Linked DNA regions of Homo sapiens: region 2 is linked to region 1. Evidence: fine-mapped expression QTL. Tissue or cell type: Th1/17 cells. Region 1 holds a variant in brackets; the other region holds the start of a gene. All regions are shown on one strand. Distances are from middle to middle.

Evidence for each region. PIP is the estimated chance that this variant, and not a neighbour inherited with it, causes the effect. A credible set is the group of variants that fine-mapping cannot tell apart.
Region 2: it holds the start of ETNK2, and the variant in region 1 is the best candidate, but not a certain one, in a credible set for the expression of ETNK2 in Th1/17 cells (Schmiedel 2018, PIP 0.69).

Annotation. Positions count from the first base shown.
Region 1 is chr1:204,172,549-204,183,150 of GRCh38, reverse strand. No RefSeq gene overlaps it. Among named protein-coding and RNA genes, the nearest start is that of REN, 12 kb to the right of the region's middle. RefSeq lists enhancers at 3,835-4,335, 5,586-5,797 and a promoter at 4,672-10,602. The variant A/G (reference allele first, on the strand shown) is at 5,093.
Region 2 is chr1:204,148,507-204,157,807 of GRCh38, reverse strand. It overlaps ETNK2 (ethanolamine kinase 2), which reads left to right and starts at 5,764. Exons shown (of 8, transcript NM_018208.4): 1 at 5,764-6,213; 2 at 7,846-8,105. The coding sequence starts at 5,956. REN (renin) reads left to right here. Exons shown (of 10, transcript NM_000537.4): 6 at 439-447; 7 at 1,012-1,131; 8 at 1,489-1,630; 9 at 1,890-1,988; 10 at 2,631-2,989. The coding sequence ends at 2,792. RefSeq lists an enhancer at 5,986-6,685.

The DNA.
Region 1 (10,602 bases):
AGTTGATGAGCAACCTGTCTGATATACCTCCTTGGCTGTTGTTCCCTACCGTCAGCCACTCCTTAGGCACCAAGGCTCCCTCTGTAGCAGTCCTGGGTGGACAACACAGAGCTTGAGCTGGCCTGGGGCTTGTGGTGACCTCTATGCCTCCTGCACACCCAGGCCCGAAGGCAGGAAAGACCTGAGTTTTGATTTTGTCAAAAACCAAGGGGTGGAATATGAGAGAAATTCTCATCTATCACAAAAGAAGAGTAATAAAAATGTGTAAAATTTTGGCCAGGCGCGATGGCTCACGCCTGTAATTCCCAGAACTTTGGGAGGCTGAGGTGGGTGTATCATCTGAGGTCAGGAGTTCAAGGCCAGCCTGGCCAACATGGTGAAACCCTGTCTCTACTAAAAATACGAAAATTAGCCAGGTGTGGTAGTGGGTGCCTGTAATCCCAGCTACTCTGGAGGCTGAGGCAGGGAGAATCTCTTGAACCCGGGAGGTGGAGGTTGCAGTGAGCCGAGATCATGCCACTGCACTCCGACAGAGCGAGACTCCATCTCAAAAAATAATAATAATAAATAAAAGTATATGCGTCACCTTTAGGAATATGAATGACCAACAATAGCAGAATAGTCTAGAGAGTTAACAGTCTTACCTTGGAGGAGCCAGGCTGAGAGCTGGGGGTGGGGGTGGAATTGGAGATTGCTGGTTTTCATTATAAGCCTTTTAGTTGTATTCATTTTTAAAGCTACAGCATATTTTTTTCTGATTAAAAAAATATTAAGTCCAGCCTGGCCAACATGGTGAAACTCTGCTTCTACTAAAAAATATAAAAATTAGGCCGGGCGCGGTGGCTCACGCCTGTAATCCCAGCACTTTGGGAGGCCGAGGCGGGCGGATCACGAGGTCAGGAGATCGAGACCATCCCGGCTAAAACGGTGAAACCCCGTCTCTACTAAAAATACAAAAAATTAGCCGGGCGTAGTGGCGGGCGCCTGTAGTCCCAGCTACTTGGGAGGCTGAGGCAGGAGAATGGCGTGAACCCGGGAGGCGGAGCTTGCAGTGAGCCGAGATCGCACCACTGCACTCCAGCCTGGGCGACAGAGCGAGACTCCGTCTCAAAAAAAAAAAATAAATAAATAAATAAATAAATAAATAAATAAATAAATAAATAAAAATTAGCTGGGCATGGTGGCTTGTGCCTGTAATTCCAGCTACTCCAGAGGCTGAGGCAGGAGAATCATTTGAACCCGGGAGGTGGAGGTTACAGCGAGCTGAAATCACACCACTGCACTTCAGCCTGGTGACAGAGCGAGACTGTCTCAAAAAAAAAAAAGAAGAAGAAGAAGAAAAAGAAGACGAAGAAGGAGAAGAGAAAAGAGGAAGGGAGGAGGAGAAAGGGGGGAAGGAAGGATGGGAGACGCGGGTGGGCAGGCAGGGAGGGAGGAAGAGAGAGGTCTGTTTTCTGGGAAATGTATTCTTGAGGTGCTGACAAAGAATTTTTGCTTGTCCAAATTTTAGTTATGCCTTTCAAATCTTCTGCTAGGTTTATCTGGGCACTTCCTTGTAAAATCCAGTTTTAGCAAAGAGCCCTGCTAAGTCAATTTAGCAAATAATCCCCACCCTCAATATCTGATCACCCTGGATATCTGACCAGGTTCCTCAGCCTGCACCATGCCACAGGTGATGTCTGATCACCATGGCCTGTCTGTGGCAGGAATCCTGTTACATGAGTTTAGCCAGAATGCCCCCATGCCCCTGATGTTTCCTCTTAGTAATTTTCATCCACTGACCCCACCATGCTCCTTGGCTTTACATTTTCACTTGCCCATGCTGTATTTGGAGTTGAGCCCAACTTCTCTCCCCAACTGCAAGAACCTGTTGCAGTGGTCCCTGTATCTATCTCAAAAGTCCTGAGTAAAGTCTGCCTTACTGTGCTTTAATAAGTGGCACTGGATAATTTTGCTTTAATAGTACAACCCCTGTCCCTAACAGCCATCCTCCATCCCAGCTATGCTTCTGCTGGTGACACTCAGCACACGAACCCCTAGCACTATACCACCCCTCTGTCACTCCCTACACACCACACACACACACACACGCACACACACACTCCACTGCTGTGCTGTCAAATCCTCCTCTAGAAAAGGAGCCTTCCAGCTTAACCTTGTTCGATAACAAAACAGACTCCTGGTGCCACTAAGGAAAAGCATTTTTCTATGTTTCTAGCTTTCATGCCTCAGGGTATTGATGTCTGGTTCCACCACATTGGGTGCATCTCATTTTAGGAACACCCTTCAATCAGGCTATCCCACCAAGCCCCCATCCCCCATGCCAATCCCCTCCTGCCCCAGGCCCCTACAGATCCCAAGACCTGTGTAACCTGCCTTCAATTTTCCTGGGTCACCAGTTAAACAGGCCTCAGGTTGGGATCACCCAACCCCATGGCTGAATACCTGTTCCTCTAAGGTTCCCAGAACAAACAACTAAGGATGCTTGGTTCTCCTCACTCCTACCCCTACCCCACCTCCATCCCAAGGTTCTTCCGTTCCTGCCCATCCCTTGCCCAGAGCTCTCTGAGTAATTATCCCTTCTGGAGAGTCTGCCCACACAAGGCAGCACTGGACGGTTACAAAACTCCATTCTGGGTCTTTCTTTCCTCTCAAGGCCACAGCTGCTCATCTCTACTAGTAGAGTTCAGCGCCCCATCTGATTGGTAAATTCCTCCAGAGCCAGCTGGAGTTCTCCAGCGATGGGGAGTGAAGCATGATGAGGGAAGGAGGACAGGTGGAAGAGAGACGTGGCCATTTGATCTCACCGCTTGCTTGCTCATTTGCTTTTGTTTGTTTTGAGACAAGGTCTTGCTGTGTCACACAGCTGGAGCGCAGAGGCCCAGCCACAGCTCACTGCAGCCTCGAACTCTTGGGCTCAAGCTATCCTTCCTCCTCAGCCTCCTAATTAGCTGGGACTACAAGTGTGTGCCCCCATGCCTGGATAATTTTTTAAAAATAGTTTTAGACACAGGGGCTCTCTATGTCACCAAAGCTGGCCTTGAATTCCTGGCTTCATGCAATTCTCCCACCTTGGCTTCCTGAGTAGCTGGGATTACAGGCATGAGCCACCATGCCCAGCCCCATTTGCTTTTTAATGAATTGAAGCAGGACTGGCCAAGAGATGATTAGCTCCCAAGCACTAAGCCTCAGTGAGTCCAAGTTCTACCTCTTTACCACCACCCCCTGGGCAGGGGCCATGATAAGAGTTTTCTACTAAACTGCTGATACCAAGAATAAATCCATGCCTGTTTCGCAGCAGCACAAACCAGACTCTTCATGCTACCCAGACTTCCCTCCCTCCACCCTCGACCTCCCCTGACCACTCCAGCCTTGGTCTCAACACCTGAATCTCCCTGGGCTCATTATCATGGAGGAGAGTGGGATTTGGGGTTTTTAAGAAAAAACCCTGAGCACCACTTATGTCCTGAGAGATTTCCAGAGGTTGTGGGATCTGAAGTAAGATGAGAGGGCTGGGATCTGACTGGATTTATGCTTCCCCTGCCTGGTTCTCACGTCCCAGCCCTGCCCCGCTGGGAAAGGGCTGGGGCAATATGACCCTTCCCTCTGCCCCCACCCACTCCACTTCCCTGAGCGAGAGGTGACGCAGCCCAGGGCTTTTGCGTAGCATCCTGGCGAGCCTTTGTGAGAAGAACTGGACCCCGGGCAGAAGGGGGTCAAAAGATGACCTGATAAGGGTCCTCATACTCTCTCTTTTCCATCCCCAGCCTGGGACTCGGGAAGGCCCAAGTTCAGAGGGGAGGAGAGGCTCTCCTGGCAGCTTCACCTCCCCTTCTGTATTTTCCCCCACCTGTGCAGCAGAAATGGGAGAGTTACAGGTCAGGCCACCTGGCAGTCAGGACACACCAGAGCTGGACAGGCACAGAGTCAGCCTGGCCCTGTCCATGGCAGGGAGCTCCCTGACAGTTGAGCACCTGGGCAGGACTATCCCCAGGTAGGGGAGTTCACCGCCTCAGAGGGCACTTGCCCTGCTGGGCAGTGTGAACCGCTGGACAGTTCCTCCTTAGAATGGAACTCAAACAGATTCTCCCCATCCCGCCACTTCTCATGAGCCTCAGATCTGCATTGTGGGCACAGAAAATAGGGCTGGTTCTGATTCCTTCCAGGGCCGCATGTGTGGCTTCTCTCTTCCAGCTAAGCTTCTCCAGGGCCTTTGGCCAACCTTCAGGACATGGTTTCAGGCCCCTTGCCTGTCCCAGCTCCAGACCATGCATGGTCGTGCTTAGCTGTGTTGCCCATTTTCTGATCTCGGGATCTCTCCTCCAACTGTTCCCCTCCCAGGCTGTGCGCTGGGGTGGAAACCAGGAGAAATAAGACAGAGGCTGTCATTTTGGACTCTGTTACCCTCTTAGAAGTTGATTTCCTTGCCTGCCCTGTGGTCTCTGCAGATCTTGTCTGCAACTTGCTTGCAGCCTCAGAGTGAGTTAGCAGAGTCATTGTTCCACTTCTCTCTCCTGGTGAGGTTATTCATGCTTCATAGTCTCACTTGTATGCACTGCTGGGCTCAGGACCACATGGGGGTCATGGTGCTGCATACATGGTGGGAGGCAGGGGATAGATGTGGGAGTGAGGACATGTTTGGTTGGAGAGTGCTGGGTCCCCAGGGGACCTAGATCTACTGGTAGCTCAGGGCTTCACATTGCCTGCTCTGGACCTCCTGGCTCTGCCTTTGCTGTTGAAGAGTCCGGAAACTTAATCAAAAATAGATGTGAGGGTTCTGCTGCACTGTACTGGGTGTCTAAACTATACTAGACGTGGGGCTTAGAAGAGCTCCCCTTTCCACATAGAAAAGCTCTATGGGGTTGGATCACTCTCTACAGATTCTTCTTTTGAATCCCATTGGCTCTCCCAGTTGTTCCTGACACCCATAGCCACAGAGAAGGAGTCACAAAGTGAAGCCCTCAGCTTGTCCTTCTCTAAGCTCTCTGCAGCCTCAGTGGCCTCATCTGAACAGTGCAGATGATAGTTACCACTTCATAGGGCTGCCTAGAAAACAAAATCCAGTAGTGTTCAAATCACCTCATAGCACATC[A/G]TAGATGCTCAAGAAAGTTGGCTGGTGTTACTCACATTCTGCTGCAGCCCCTAGGCTGACCCCATCTCTGACAGTCCTCCAACTTGTTCTCTCCCTGCTCCTTGCTCCCTTTCCTCTAGGGTTTGCTGAGAGCAGAGGGAGAGAAAGGGTGGGTGGTCAGTCACCCTTGCTGGCTATGACAGGTTGCAGTCATGGTGGGAAAGGAGACAGCATCACTCTTAAGCACTCTCCTGAGATTCATGATGGACACTCCTCCAGCAACGCAGGGGCCCTCGAGCTCGAGGTGGAGAGAAGTGAGATTCTGGGGCAGGGCACCCACCCAGGTTCAAGCCCAGCAACTGTACCCATGAGCAACACAGGATATGGTGCAGGAGAGATGCAAGTCCCCACTCTGCCACTTACCATCTGCAAATCATGACACACTGCTTAACCTCCTAGGTCTTGGCTTCCTCCTGTTGGGGAAACTGATCCACTCACCTCCCAGGCTGATGTGGACACTGGGAGAAGACCCTCTTCCCTTCAGGCCCTGCTTTTTTGCCTTGGACCCTCCACACACTCCCTGCTGTCATTACTGGACTAGCAGTTCCCGCCCTGTCATTTATCAAAGACTTTGGCTCCTGATTTACAGACTTCCTCCACCCCTTGCCCTCTGCAACCTCCTGATGACATCACCAACCACGCAGATGGTGACCTGGCCATACTGGCCTCTCAGATCCTTGGGGCCCCATTTCCAACAACCTCACCCCTCCTCTACTTCAGCTATCCACAGCCACGTCCTACTTGGGACTTATCACTTATAACCACTTCCCCTCCAGACTATCTCAAGCATCCCATGCTCAGCCAGCTCGTCCTCCAGCTTTGTGGTTCAACTGTTCCCACCAGCCCTGCTCACTCTTCTCAATTGCCATGGTCCTTTGCTTCCTTCCAGATCATCCATTCTGTCCTGTCTTGACTTCTCTAGCCACCTTACATTCCACAGTTTTTCATTCAATAACAGTTTTTGTCGTTGTTGTTGTTGTTGTTGTTGTTTTGAGACAAGGTCTCACTCCATCACCCAGGCTGCAGCACAGTGGCAACAATCACAGCTCACTGCAGCTTCAACCTCTTGGGCTCAAGCAATCCTCCACCTCAGCCTCCCAAGTAGCTGGGACTACAGGTGGGCACCACCATACCCCAGTTGATTTTTGTACTTTTTTGTAGAGACGAGGTCTCACTATGTTGCCCAGGCTGGTCTCAACCTCCCAGGCTCAAGCAATCCTCCTGTCTCGGCCTTCCAAAGTGCTGGGATTGTAGGCATGAGCCACTGCTCCCGGTCCAATAACATTTTTGCTAAAACCTTAAATTCCTTTGTCCCTCATCTTTGATCACCCTAGCCCTGGATGAAGCCAGCTATATACTTTCTCTCCATCTGTATCCAAGGAGCTGACACTGTGGTATTGGTAGGGGGAGACAGAGAACCAGGCCAACTGGCTTCCTTTAAAGTCATGATCTCCAGCCATTAAATGTCTTCATTCCTCACAGAAATCCTCTTGGTTTCCCTGGCCACCTTCTTCCCACTTTCCATAATGATTCCAGAGCTTCTCCATTTTTCTCATGCCTCCAAACCCCCTCCCATCCCCAACTCTCAGCAGAGGTCCTTGCTTCCTACTTGTCAGAGAAGATAACAGCCACCAGACAGGCAGTCCCTCAGCTTCCAATGCCAAGCAAATCAACCACTAACACCTGCACATGCCTTGCCTTCTTTCCTCCTGCTGCAGTGGAGGGTCTGCTCCATCCTGCTGTTTCCCACCCTGTATACTCCTTCCCTCCCAGGAATCCTACTGCGTTAATTAACTCTTCCTCTCAACTGAGTGCTTTCTATGCATTAAATATACTCAACTCCCTCCCATCATTAGAAAAGATTGGCAGTGCAGCGGGATAATTAAGGAATCAGAGAGACCGAGGGGTTGAGGAGGAATTATTTAATTATTTAGGTGCACCGACCCAGTCGGATTAACATCTAAAGGACTGAGCCCCGAACAAAGAGTCAAGCTACCTTTTAAGCATTTCGTCAGGGAGAGGAGGAGGAGAAGGAAGGAGGGAAGGAGGAGGAAGAAAGAGAAAAACCTCTCACCTGGTCCTCGTTCTCCTCCAGTTATCGTCACCCTCTTTCCCCTTTTTTACTCCTCCACTTTTCAAAATAGCTGCCTACACTATGTTGTCTTCATCTTCTTACTTTCTATCCTAGTCTGTTCAGGCTGCTATTAAAAAATACCATAAACTGGGTAGCTTATAAACCACAGAAACTTATCTCTCACAGTTCTGAAGTCTGAGAAGTTCAAGATCAATGCATTGGCAGATTTGGTGTCTGGCGAGGGCCTTTGTCCTGGTTCATGAGTGGCATCTTCTTGCTGTGGCTCACATGGTGGAAGGGGAAAAAAGAGCTCCCTTGGGCCCCCTTTATAAGGGCATTAATCCCATCAGGACTTAATCACCTCTCCAAAGGTTCATCCTCCTAATACTATTATATTGAGGGTTAGAATTTCAACCTATGAATTTTGGGGGACACAAACATTCACATCGTAGCACTTCCCATCATTCATCAACCCATCCCTGTGTGGACTCCCACCCCTCTGAATCACCAAAACAGCTCCCACTGACAGCACCAGTGGCCCGCATGTCTCCATTTTAACCCAAGTCTCACCTCACCCTGCAGCAGCACCTACTGTCCCTCACCATCTCTCCTTAAACAGTCTCTCCCTGCAACTTCAGAGACACCTGCTGCTCTCCTCCTTCCTCTGTGGCCACTCCTTTGGGGTCTCCTCTGCAGATTCCTCCTCTGCTGCTTGTCCTTAAAGCTTAGAGTCCAGGGCTTTCTTGCTGCTCACCTTCTCCCTGGCTAATTTCATTCATACCTGTCGCATTAATCACCAATTGCAAATAACACATAAATCTTTCACCCGGGTTTATTTATGCACCTGCCATTTGATATCACCCCTGGGATGTCTCAAAGGAGATCCATACTCAACAGTTCCTCAAACTTATGGTCTCTCCAACCCTCTTCCCCTTCTGAAATCCTCGTTCTCTTCCATCACTCTATGTACCCAGAGTGCCTCCAAAAACCAATCTCTTCCTCACTCTCTATATCCGATCTGTCACCAAGTCCTGCAGATTCTATTTCCTAAATTTCTCTCAAATCCATCCAATCTTTTTCATCTTCACCATGCCCAAGTACCCTAGACCAAGCTAGTTCTAGCACCATGACCTCCTAACTGGTATATGCCATGCTATTCTGGACCCATCCCCACTCCTTGCTAGTCCACACTGCAGCCGAAACACATGCAAAACACATCTAATTACAACATTCCCTTCTGTTTTTTTTTCTTTTTTGAGACAAAGTCTCGCTCTTGTTCCCCAGGCTGGAGTGCAATGGCGCAGTCTTGGCTCACTGCAACCTCCACCTCCCGGGTTCAAGGGATTCTCCTGCCTCAGCCTTCAGAGTAGCTGGGATTACAGGTGCCTGCCACCACGCCCAGCTAATTTTTGTATTTTTAGTAGAGACGGGGTTTCCCCATGTTGGCCAGGCTGGTCTTGAACTCCAGACGTCAGGTGATTCGCCCCCCTCGGCCTCCCAAAGTGCTGGGATTACAGGCGTGAGCCACTGCACCTGGCCCATCAGTCCCTTCTTCACCTGTCTGCAAAAACATCTAATTACATTCATTCACTTCTTAATGGGTCAACAGCTTCCCATGGCTCTTAGGGTAAACACAGAACTTCCTAACATGGGATGCAAGAACCTTTATGGTTTGACACTCAGCGCATCTATGTACTGGGTTCTGGGCCACACAGCCTAAACTTACTGTCTGACTCTGGCCCTTATTGCCAGTGGGACCTTGGGCAAGTTACCTTTTGAATCCTCTTGGGCCTCAATGTCCTCATCTGTAAAATAGTGATATAATGCTACAACCTCATATGGTTATTGTGAGAATTAAGTGCATTAAACACCTAGAGTGGTATCTTGCACATAGTAAGTATTCAGTAAGTGTTAGCTCTTTCAGCTCCTGCCTCTGGCCACATGTCTCACCCCGCTCTCTCTCATCTCTCTGTTCTTGATATGTTGGCTTTTTTTGTTTTTATTGACATCATCCTCTCTCCACAGGGCCTTCGCACGTTCTGTTCCTGCTGGGACTCTATTTCTTTGTCTTCAGCTATTCATTGCCAATGCAGCCTTCAGATCACAATGCGAGTATAATTTTGGGTGGGAGGGAAGCTTCCTGGAGTTCCCTGACTGGCACTAGTCATCAGCGCTATTTTATATTTATGCATGATGATAATAATCTATCTCTTCCACAAGACGGTGGGATCCATAAACAAGAGCAGAAACTGTGTTTATTTTTGTGAACTTTGTAACTCCAGCATCTAGCAGAGTGCCTCACATTATAATAAAGGCTCCATGAATATTTGCTAGTAAATGAAAGAGGACTGAAAGAGCAATTTAGGGGTGCTTCATAAATGTTCATTTATTCTGACAAGATACCCCTACCATGAAGGATCTAAAAGTATTCCCCTGTCCCCAAATAATTCCCCCACTCCCAACCACAGTTCCTGAAAAATCACCACTAGGGTCCATCGTTTGGAAAGGGCCTTATCATCTCTGAGGTCAAAACACATTAATTAGCCAAAACATTAGCCACAGAGATGAGCTCCTCTCATTGTCTGTACTGCCCACAGCTGGTGTGGAGCTGGTGTAGAGGGCAGTACCCTGGAGGCACAGAATATTAGAATATTAGGGTATCAGAGCATGAAGACACCCTTGGTGCCATCCAGCCATCTGCTTCACTGTACAGATTTGGAAACTGAGGTCCAAAGAGGAGAAAGGAGGGATCCAACATCACATAGCAAATTTATGGTAGAATGAAGACTAGGATCCAAGTCCCTGACCACCAACCCAGGGCTCTTTGCACTGCCCATTGCAGTTCACTAGTTCATCCACTTAATAAATATTAAGCACCACTGTGGGCAAAAATCATATTCATACATACATAAAGAACTCTGCTGCAAAAGCAGCTAAGTTGGTGCTGTCATAGAAGGGCTTGTAGCCATGCTGTGGAAGCCTACAGCAGAAAGCAGTCAATTCCAGGCTGAGTCAGGGCCTGCTTCATGGAGGAGGGGGTAATATTTGAAGTGGGCCCTAAAAAATAATCAGGGAAAAGCCAAGATAGGCATCTTAGCCTGAATAAATAGCACTCATCCTGGGATTTAGGGACCAGATGTCTGTCTGGGGAGCTGTACTTGACTGCTTGTAAAGCTACAGGGAAAAGGAAATGAGGCAGAGAACCAGGGCCTAAAAGGGAGTTAGAGCCAAGCAGAAAGAGGAGAATAAGTTGGAAGATCAGCTGCCCTACCTCTATTTAGCAGAAGCCAAAACCCTGAAGACTGCCCTTCTCTCCCACCCTTACTAGGTCAACAGAGGATAGACAACCCCCTCCTCCCCCAGCTCCCTGCTTCCAGAGGATTATGTAACCAAATCC
Region 2 (9,301 bases), 25 kb after region 1:
AATTTGTGCTAGCATATACACATACATTCCGAATTTATAAAAACACAAGTAGTTTGCAGTTGCACAAAATAACATATGCACACCTACACACCCATGCACACATGTGCATGTGTGAATTCTAGTATGAATTCTGGAAAAACACATCACACACACAGGCATGCCCTGGAGACTAGGCCTACAGTAGTCCCTGAGCCAAGTGCAGTGAGGAGGAAAGGAAGGTGAGGGGAATCAGCTCCAGACGGGGCACCAGGAGCCTGGCTCCAGTCCCCCACTTGTTCACTCATGGACTGGGTAACTTCAGGCAAGTGACTTCGCCTCTTGGTGACTCCATTGCCTGAAGGGCAAAGAGAGTACATAACACCCACCCTGCCAAACAGCAGGGCTGATGAGGCTGGCATGAAATGAAGCTTCCTTTCTGCTGTCTCTCTTTCTCTGCAGAGATTCCGAGTAAGGAGACAAAACCCCCACATGGCTGTGACCTTCCAGTACTCCCCGAGCACCTGACCTAGAATTACACACGCCACCGGCCCAAAACTCACATCAGCAAGCCCAGCCTCCGCTAGATGCCGAAGTTCTCTGTCTCTCCTTCCTGCTCTCTCCATGCCACCTGCCCACCCCATACCCAATAGCCTCCCCAGGGTCCCCTCCCATGCACCTGCTCAATCAGCAGCAACCCAAGAGTGAGGGGTGTCCATTTGTGTCTTGTTCACATCCACTCACTGTCCTTGTACCTGCTCCTTTTCTGTGACCTCTCTGGGGATGCTTTTTGGGGGAACAGCTGGACTACCCTGGAACAACCTCTGGTTGGTCTTGGGGAGGGGAAGAAAGGCAGAGAAGCAGTATGTTCTGCATGCTTCCCAACGACAGCTCCGAGCCTGGCTGTCTGTCCCACATTCCTCTGCTCTAGAGCCCTCTGTCCTCCCCTGCACCCTTGTGCAACCTTCCCCAATTGCCTGAGTTGCTGGGTCCTGGAGGTTATGGGTTTCCAAGAGCTTCTGATCTTTCCTTTAGGAATTCCCAATCGCTGGGAGGACAGATTGTGCTGGGAGGCAGCGACCCCCAGCATTACGAAGGGAATTTCCACTATATCAACCTCATCAAGACTGGTGTCTGGCAGATTCAAATGAAGGGGTCAGAAATCCTCAACCCTCCCCGGGCTCCAAAAAATGCTGCCGTCACTGGGGTTGGGGAGGGTGGGGAAGGACTGCATTACCATCCTGCCCTCTTTCCAAATGCAGCCACTTCTTAAGCACAGCCACCATTTGCTCTCTGCCTGCTCTGTCCAGGCTGGGGAACAGAGAAGGGAGGGGCCTGGGGAGAAGTGGTGGAGGGTGACAGTACCTTCCCTCCTCTACTCACTGCCTCAACAGGCCACCAGCGTGGCCTCCACCCACCCACCCACACTCAGGAAGGACATGCAGCCTGGAGGTGCCCCATCAGCCTTCTGTCTGTCTGTCTGTCTGTCTGTCTGACTGTGGCCTCCCCCAGGGTGTCTGTGGGGTCATCCACCTTGCTCTGTGAAGACGGCTGCCTGGCATTGGTAGACACCGGTGCATCCTACATCTCAGGTTCTACCAGCTCCATAGAGAAGCTCATGGAGGCCTTGGGAGCCAAGAAGAGGCTGTTTGATGTAAGAAGCCAAAGAGGGAAGGTGCTGTGGGTGGGGGGAGCGCCACCTGGTATCGGCTCACAAATCCCCCAGGCAAATGAGGCCATCTCAGGCCTTCGCTTGTTCACCTCACACTCTCCACACATGTGGCTGGTCACCCATGGGGCGGGGCACTGTCCCCAGCCCTCTCCAGCAGAGAGACCAGGCCACCAGCGCAGGACTCCTTGTCTGCTGAGACGTCTTCCATACTCAAGAAGGCTCTCTTTGCCCCCCACCCCAGTATGTCGTGAAGTGTAACGAGGGCCCTACACTCCCCGACATCTCTTTCCACCTGGGAGGCAAAGAATACACGCTCACCAGCGCGGACTATGTATTTCAGGTGAGGTTCGAGTCGGCCCCCTCGGTGGCAGGGAGAAAGGCTGGACAGAGACCCTCAAAGAGTGACAGATTACAATGCACAGGTCATGTTAGAACTGTAGTTCTCAAACTTGGCTGTGCATGTCACCTGGAGAGCTTTGAAAAATCCTGGTACCTGGGCCACATCCCATACCTATTAAATCAGAACCTCTAGAAGTGGCACCTGGGGTTCAGTTTCCCCAGGTGATTCCAATGTGTGGCCATGTTTGGGCATCACTATGCCTGTTCCCTCATCTCCATTTTCTCATCAAATACTCCCAAGAATCCTATGCTCCTATATTCTTACCCTCTTTTCATAATCAATAGGCTTAGAGAAGTTGAATAACTTGTCTAGGATCAGAAGCTAAGGCAAACTGTAAGCTCCTGAAGGAAGCACGGTGCCTGATGCATTGTTTGCCTGGGATCTAGCACAGGGGCTAAACATAGGAGTGGTGCAGTCCACGATGGGGCAAAATGGCCATGATGTGAGGGAGGCCCAGTGTGGCTAGGGGAGAGATGGGGGCGAGAGGGGGAATGTTGCTGAAGACAGTTGCTGGGGGTCAGGCAAGGTGAAAGGAGAATGCTCATGTGCTGGGTATGGAGAAACTCTCCCCCTTCCTGCCAGGAATCCTACAGTAGTAAAAAGCTGTGCACACTGGCCATCCACGCCATGGATATCCCGCCACCCACTGGACCCACCTGGGCCCTGGGGGCCACCTTCATCCGAAAGTTCTACACAGAGTTTGATCGGCGTAACAACCGCATTGGCTTCGCCTTGGCCCGCTGAGGCCCTCTGCCACCCAGGCAGGCCCTGCCTTCAGCCCTGGCCCAGAGCTGGAACACTCTCTGAGATGCCCCTCTGCCTGGGCTTATGCCCTCAGATGGAGACATTGGATGTGGAGCTCCTGCTGGATGCGTGCCCTGACCCCTGCACCAGCCCTTCCCTGCTTTGAGGACAAAGAGAATAAAGACTTCATGTTCACAGCCTGTTGCATCTGGGTTCACTAGGGTTTAGAACAGAGGGAGGGGCTGCGTGATCATGTGTGGACAGGAATGTGACACAGACAAGCTACACATTCGCCTAGCGCACAGGTTCTTGCGTGCAGGGATGATGCCATCCATCTGCCATCAACGGGACTCAGGTGGAGCTGTTTACACAACCTCAGGTGGGAAGTCTGAAAAGAGCCGGAACCAAGCTCCCTCTAGTCCCTCAGGGACCAAGGCTAATGCTGTGGCAGTAGACTGTGGGTCAGAAAGTTCTCCCAGCTCACAGAAGCCAGCTCTGAGTTCAGACTCTGCTCTGCTGAGCTAGTCAGCCCTGTCTCTTGTCCCTGCAAAACTCCCCTCAGCTGTCCTTATCCACTGCAGATGCCCCCGCCCTGCCCCATGTAGCCATTTACACAGGCATTCTAAGGCACTACCACCTAAAATCATAGAACACCAGAGATCCAGGCAATACTTCCACTTTACAGGTGGGGAAACTGAGGCCCAGAGAATGGAAGGCCTTGCCCAAGATTACTCGGTCAAGAATCAAGTAGTGAAGAATACTGAAAGATAGTGAAGAATCAAGACTGGAACCCAGCCCGTCTGACTTGGGTCCTGGGGGTTTCCACCTTATCATAAGCAGTTGGTACCGTCATAAGTACAGTGCTTCACGCACGCTGGTACAGGGCCACGTGCACAAGCACACAGGTGCACACACACACTGCTATCCTCCATCCCATCCACCTGGGACTCGTCAGGCTGAAGTCTCTTCTCCCACTCTCACTCCTTGGGCTGTCTTCAGGGCACATGTAACTTGGGGAATGAGAAATTAGCATCCACCTGGAGCCACTGAAGCCATCCCTCTTCACCATAGTTGCTCACCTCTCTTTTGACAGAAAGTCGTGAGGCACTGAATGGCCCAACCAGGCCCTCAGTACCTCTGGGAGCCATCTGCAAGAGTCCCTGTGTAGCGCCAAGAGCCGGAGCCTGGGCTTCAGGACCCTGGACTCCCACTGATTCTCCATGTTCCCTTGTCCTGCATAGCTGTACTTCCTCACTGCAAAGGAAGTGTTGGTGGCCAGTGTCTTTTCCAGCTCCATCCTGGAGCTCCAGGACCTTAGGAAGGCAGGCACGACCCCCATTATCTCCTTCACTATCCAATATGGTAGGCACATGTGGCTATTTACACTAAAATTAAAATTAATTAAAATTGAATAAAATCAACCGGGCGCGGTGGCTCACGCCTGTAATCCCAGCACTTTGAGAGGCCGAGGAGGGTGGATCACCTGAGGTCAGGAGTTCAAGACCAGCCTGACCAACATGGAGGAACCCCCGTCTCTACTAAAAATACAAAATTAGCTGGGCGTGGTGGCACATGCCTGTAATCCCAGCTACTCAGGAGGCTGAAGCAGGAGAATCGCTTGAACCCAGGAGGCCGAGGTTGTGGTGAGCAGAGATCACACCATTGCACTCCAGCAGCCTGGGCAACATGAGCGAAATTCTGTCTCAAATAAAAAAATTTTTTTAATAAAATCAACGTGGCTAGTGGTCACTGCATTGGACAGTAGATATAGAACATTTCAATCACTGCAGAAGTTCTGCTAGGCAGAGCTGGATTCTGGACCGCAGTAAGCATAGGAGCCTTGCGGTTGAGAGGTTCCGGGATAGGCCAAAGGGGTAACTGGGAAAATAGGAAAGGGCCCCTTCTCTGAAGGCGCTTTTCTGGGTGGGGCAGTGAGAGATAGTGACTAGTGAGATCCCTGAGGCCTCACTACAACAAATAGGGCTGGCAGCCAACAGAGCCCTGCTCAGAAGGTGGCAGAGAATGACCAAAGGAGAATCTGGCTAGTAGAGGGACTTGCCCCCTGAGCCGGCCTGGCCTCTCTCCATGTCTCCTCCCCACAGCAACCTGCCCCGGGACACCTTGTCACCCCTTCCCCTTCCTTCCCACCCCCAGCCATCACCATGCCTTGCTTTGGCCCTTAGCTGCGCCAGGCATTTGGCTGTCCTCCCCAGGACGCGCGAGGGTCTGTCCACTTCACACCCCGAATGCCAAGCAAAGCACTGGGCTCGGGTACACCGCTGGCCTGCTACCTGGCTCCATTCACACGCTCAGGATGGGAGGGAGGCTTTAACTCAGTCTGGCCCCAAGTCCTGCCCAGGATGTGCCCAAACACTCCAACGCCCTGGCTGTTCAGTGGCCTGCCAGGGGACAGCGCAGTCTGCTGGACTGGCACACTCTCACCCCAACGCTATCACCCAATGTCCCCTCTTCATGCAGTGTGTTTCTGTCGGGGATGGGAGGTTGCCTGGGTGTGGGGGGGGGCTCTCTGCAGGGAAGGACCTTTGAGATGCAGCAGGGGCCGCCCCTGCAGAGCCATTTCCCGGGGTCCGGGGACTGGGGGCACGGAGCAGGGGCACAGAGGGGCGAGCCCAAGCTGACGTCGTGGGAGCAGCGGATCTCTCTATTCCAGGATGAGGTGGGGGCGCAGGACGAGCCCTCCCCCGCCTCCACCCCAGGCTACCGGGAGAGAGCTGGAGTCTCGCGGCCTCGGAGGCCGGGAAGCCAGCCCCGGCGGGGACCCGGGCGGGGCGGAGCCAGCGGAGGCCCCACCCCCGGCGTCACCGGCCCCCAGGGGGGCGTCGCCCCCACCCCGCGCTCCAGGTAGCGGCGGCCTCAGCTGCCGGCGGTGGCTGGCTGAGCTCCCCAGCGGCCCGCGGGCCGGGGCGGGGGCGGGCCGGGGGCGTTCCCGCGGGCCACCGCCCGTGATGTCACAATCGCGGCGGGCCGCGGCGCTCCGGGGTCGGCGGTGGGCGGCGGGCCGCGAGCCGGCGATCGAAGCGGGCAGCTCGCGCCTGAGTCATGGACTTCCCCTGGCCCCTCCTCTACCACTCCCACTCCCTCGCCGGACCCCCCCGCCGGGGCTAGCGTCTGCCGCGGCTCCGAGGGGGTGGGGCTGCTGGGAATGGCTGTGCCCCCTTCGGCCCCTCAGCCGCGCGCGTCCTTTCACCTGAGGAGGCACACGCCTTGCCCGCAGTGCTCATGGGGCATGGAGGAGAAGGCGGCGGCCAGCGCCAGCTGCCGGGAGCCGCCGGGCCCCCCGAGGGCCGCCGCCGTCGCGTACTTCGGCATTTCCGTGGACCCGGACGACATCCTTCCCGGGGCCCTGCGCCTCATCCAGGAGCTGCGGCCGCATTGGAAACCCGAGCAAGTTCGGACCAAGGTAGCGGAGTGGGCGCGGGGCCGAGGATGGGGTCCTGCCAGGGCTGCCAGGGGGATGCGGGGACCCAGTCCTCGCATCCTTCCGGGTGTCAGTCCCAGGGGTGCGCGGCTGCTGCGCAAGAAAGGTTTGGAACGTGGTTTGTGTACGGATTGATTTCGTCGCTACCAAAACTAGGCTCACACCTCCCTTGGCCCTGCACACGCCCCCCTCCTCCCGGGGCTCTTAGGCACGCCTGGTGGCCACCTGCCCACTGTCGGCATGCTGCGTGTGCGGGCCGCACCCCCTGTCGCTGCGTGCTGGTGCCCCTCGCTGACCAGAAGCGCGTACCCAGCCAGCTCTGAAACCTGAGGAGGCGGGAACTTTTAAGAGACCCCCCGCCCCCCCGACCCAGCCATACATGCATACATTGCTGCCCCTTCTCCACCCCATGGTGGGAGCAAATCCTCCAGGCTCTGAGCTGCCCCTGTGGGTCCCAGGAGCCACCCTGTGGAATTCCAGCTAGCACTCAGCTCCTCACCATCGCTGCAGGCTCGGGCTCAGCACCCCCACACAGGCCATCTTCCCCAGCCCCAGCTGGACACAGGTCCCAGGACACACCTGTGGGCAGAGCCACTCACTGAGCCTTAGGCTAACTCCCCAGCTGACTACCTCCAGCCCCGCTGTGGGCTGCCTGTGGAGGAAGGTGCCGAGTGGGGCGCTTGTAGCTTGTGCTGGAATGGTAGCGGCTCCATGCAGACAGGCATTCTGGGGTGGGGTGGGGGCAAAGTTGTGGGGAGGTTCTTAACCAAGTGTGGAGGCTGACAGAACCCGCCCTGGGGATGGAGTAGCGTTTTCAAAATAAAAGGCCCAGTTTGGTATAAGACTGTCAAGGCATCAAGCAGGCCTGAGGTTAATTCCAGCACTGATCTAACGTGCTATCTGCCAGTCCCTCCCCTCTCCTGCCTCAGTTTCCCTACGTAGAATTGGTTCAGATGACCTCTAGGGCCCTCCCAGCTCTGTCACATTGTGCCCCGTAAATTCCATGGTTCCTTTCTCCTCATCACCCTGCTGTCCAGAGAACCTTGCTCGCAGCCCAGTTGTCTCCTGTCTTTTCTGGTAAGGACCTCTGGCCACTAAAGTCCTGGGATGGGTGCCAACCTCAGTACCCTCCTTGTACCTCCACCACTGGATGGGGCAAGGGGTAGAGCAGAGCACACTGCCCGGCACAAGGTGATTGGCAGCTGGTCAGGACATAGTGTTCTGGGCAACTCCCAGCCCTCCCCTGCCACATTCTGGTCCATGATGTTTCTTTCCGTACTGGGGTGGAGGGTAAGGAGCAGCAGGAGGCGTCTACCTCCCAAGTAGTGTGGAAATTTCTCCACTGCCAAATCCCATTCACTAGAGGCACACCCAGGAGTGTGTGGGAGCTAAACCCAAGCTACCATTTTTTTCTTGAACTCTATAGAGACTGGAGACTCCCAAGGTTGGGGACAGAGAGGAGCATGAGTGACTGGGCTAAAGCACTGGGGGCTTGGGGTGGTTGTGCTCGGCATTCAAATGAGCACCTCCTGCTGGAGCTACAGAGCCCAGGAGAGAGACCAGAGAGATCCTGCCCCACCCACCCACCCACGCACTGTCCTCTCCCCATGCTAGCGCTTCACGGATGGCATCACCAACAAGCTGGTGGCCTGCTATGTGGAGGAGGACATGCAGGACTGCGTGCTGGTCCGGGTGTATGGGGAGCGGACGGAGCTGCTGGTGGACCGGGAGAATGAGGTCAGAAACTTCCAGCTGCTGCGAGCACACAGCTGTGCCCCCAAACTCTACTGCACCTTCCAGAATGGGCTGTGCTATGAGTACATGCAGGGTGTGGCCCTGGAGCCTGAGCACATCCGTGAGCCCCGGCTTTTCAGGTGAGGAGGGTGCCAGGGCCTCTGTCTCTACTATTCTTCAGGCCTTGGGCTTGGAAATCCTTGGCATGTGGGGTCCATGGTGGAGAGTTGTAAGATCTGTGAGTTCCCTGAAATTGCATGAAAAATGCATGTTTATATGCATTGCTCTGCAGAGAGGGGCTATCGCTTTCTGTAGATTTTAAGGGTGAGTTCTGGGGGAGGAAAGGAAGAATTGTGATGAACATGGGAGCAGAGGACCTGGTTCCCTAAGTGCGGCAGAGATCTGCTTCCTGGCATCATGCCTCAAACCTCTGCCCACTCCAAGTCTGACCTGGAAACATCTCAGAGCCTTAGAAATGAAATCTGAGCCAGATCCCCAGGGCACTCAGGGTTTTCTACCTCTGTCTCTGTTTGTCAAGGAAAATGGGCCCTATCCAGGGTAAGCATGGTTTTACCAGCCCAGGGAGATGCTATCTCTTCTGCCAGTCTGAACTCCTTCCTGGCTCCTTGACGAAGTGGGAACCCAGGTTTGGGGAACTGTCAAGGCCTCCTTTCAAAGGCTCACAAGAACCTGTGGCTCCTGGGGAGCCCCTCCCAGTAAATGCTTGGATGTGTAGGGCCCAGGAACTGGACTTTTCCTTCAAGCCCTGGGAATGCTGTGGAGCCTGGAAAGGGGGAGGACCAAAGAAGGACCCCTAGCATCTCCCTCTCCTCTGTGCCAGAACAAGGATGGCAAGCAGTGTCCTCCTTCCTCCCTCCAATGTCATGACCCACACGGAGGGCACTCAGACTTGAGTGAGGCCCAAGGCAGGCTGAGGTTTACTCCTGACACTGGGACAGTGGCACGGGGATCTGCCTAGGAGCCTTGGCATCTGCCCAGGCTAATCCAAGGGGAAGGAGGGCTTGCATACTGAGGGGAAACAAGCCCACCTGGGGGTAGAGCAAGAAGCTTCTTTGCTTCCTCACCTGCCACCCACTTAACCCCAAATGCACCTGGCTGTGTTTGTGCATGCCTTCTGCAGGGACTTAGAAGAAGAGGATTTGAGAGCTCTTCCACCCCCATGCTCATAAGCGGCTGGTCAGGCGGGATATTTGAGTTGTGTATTGTAGCAGTGTGTGTGTGTGTGTGTGTGTGTGTGTGTGTGTGTGTGTGTCTTGAGGGTGTGAGAGGCATACAGACCTATGCAGGGATGTTTGCAGGCTCCAGTTGAACAGTT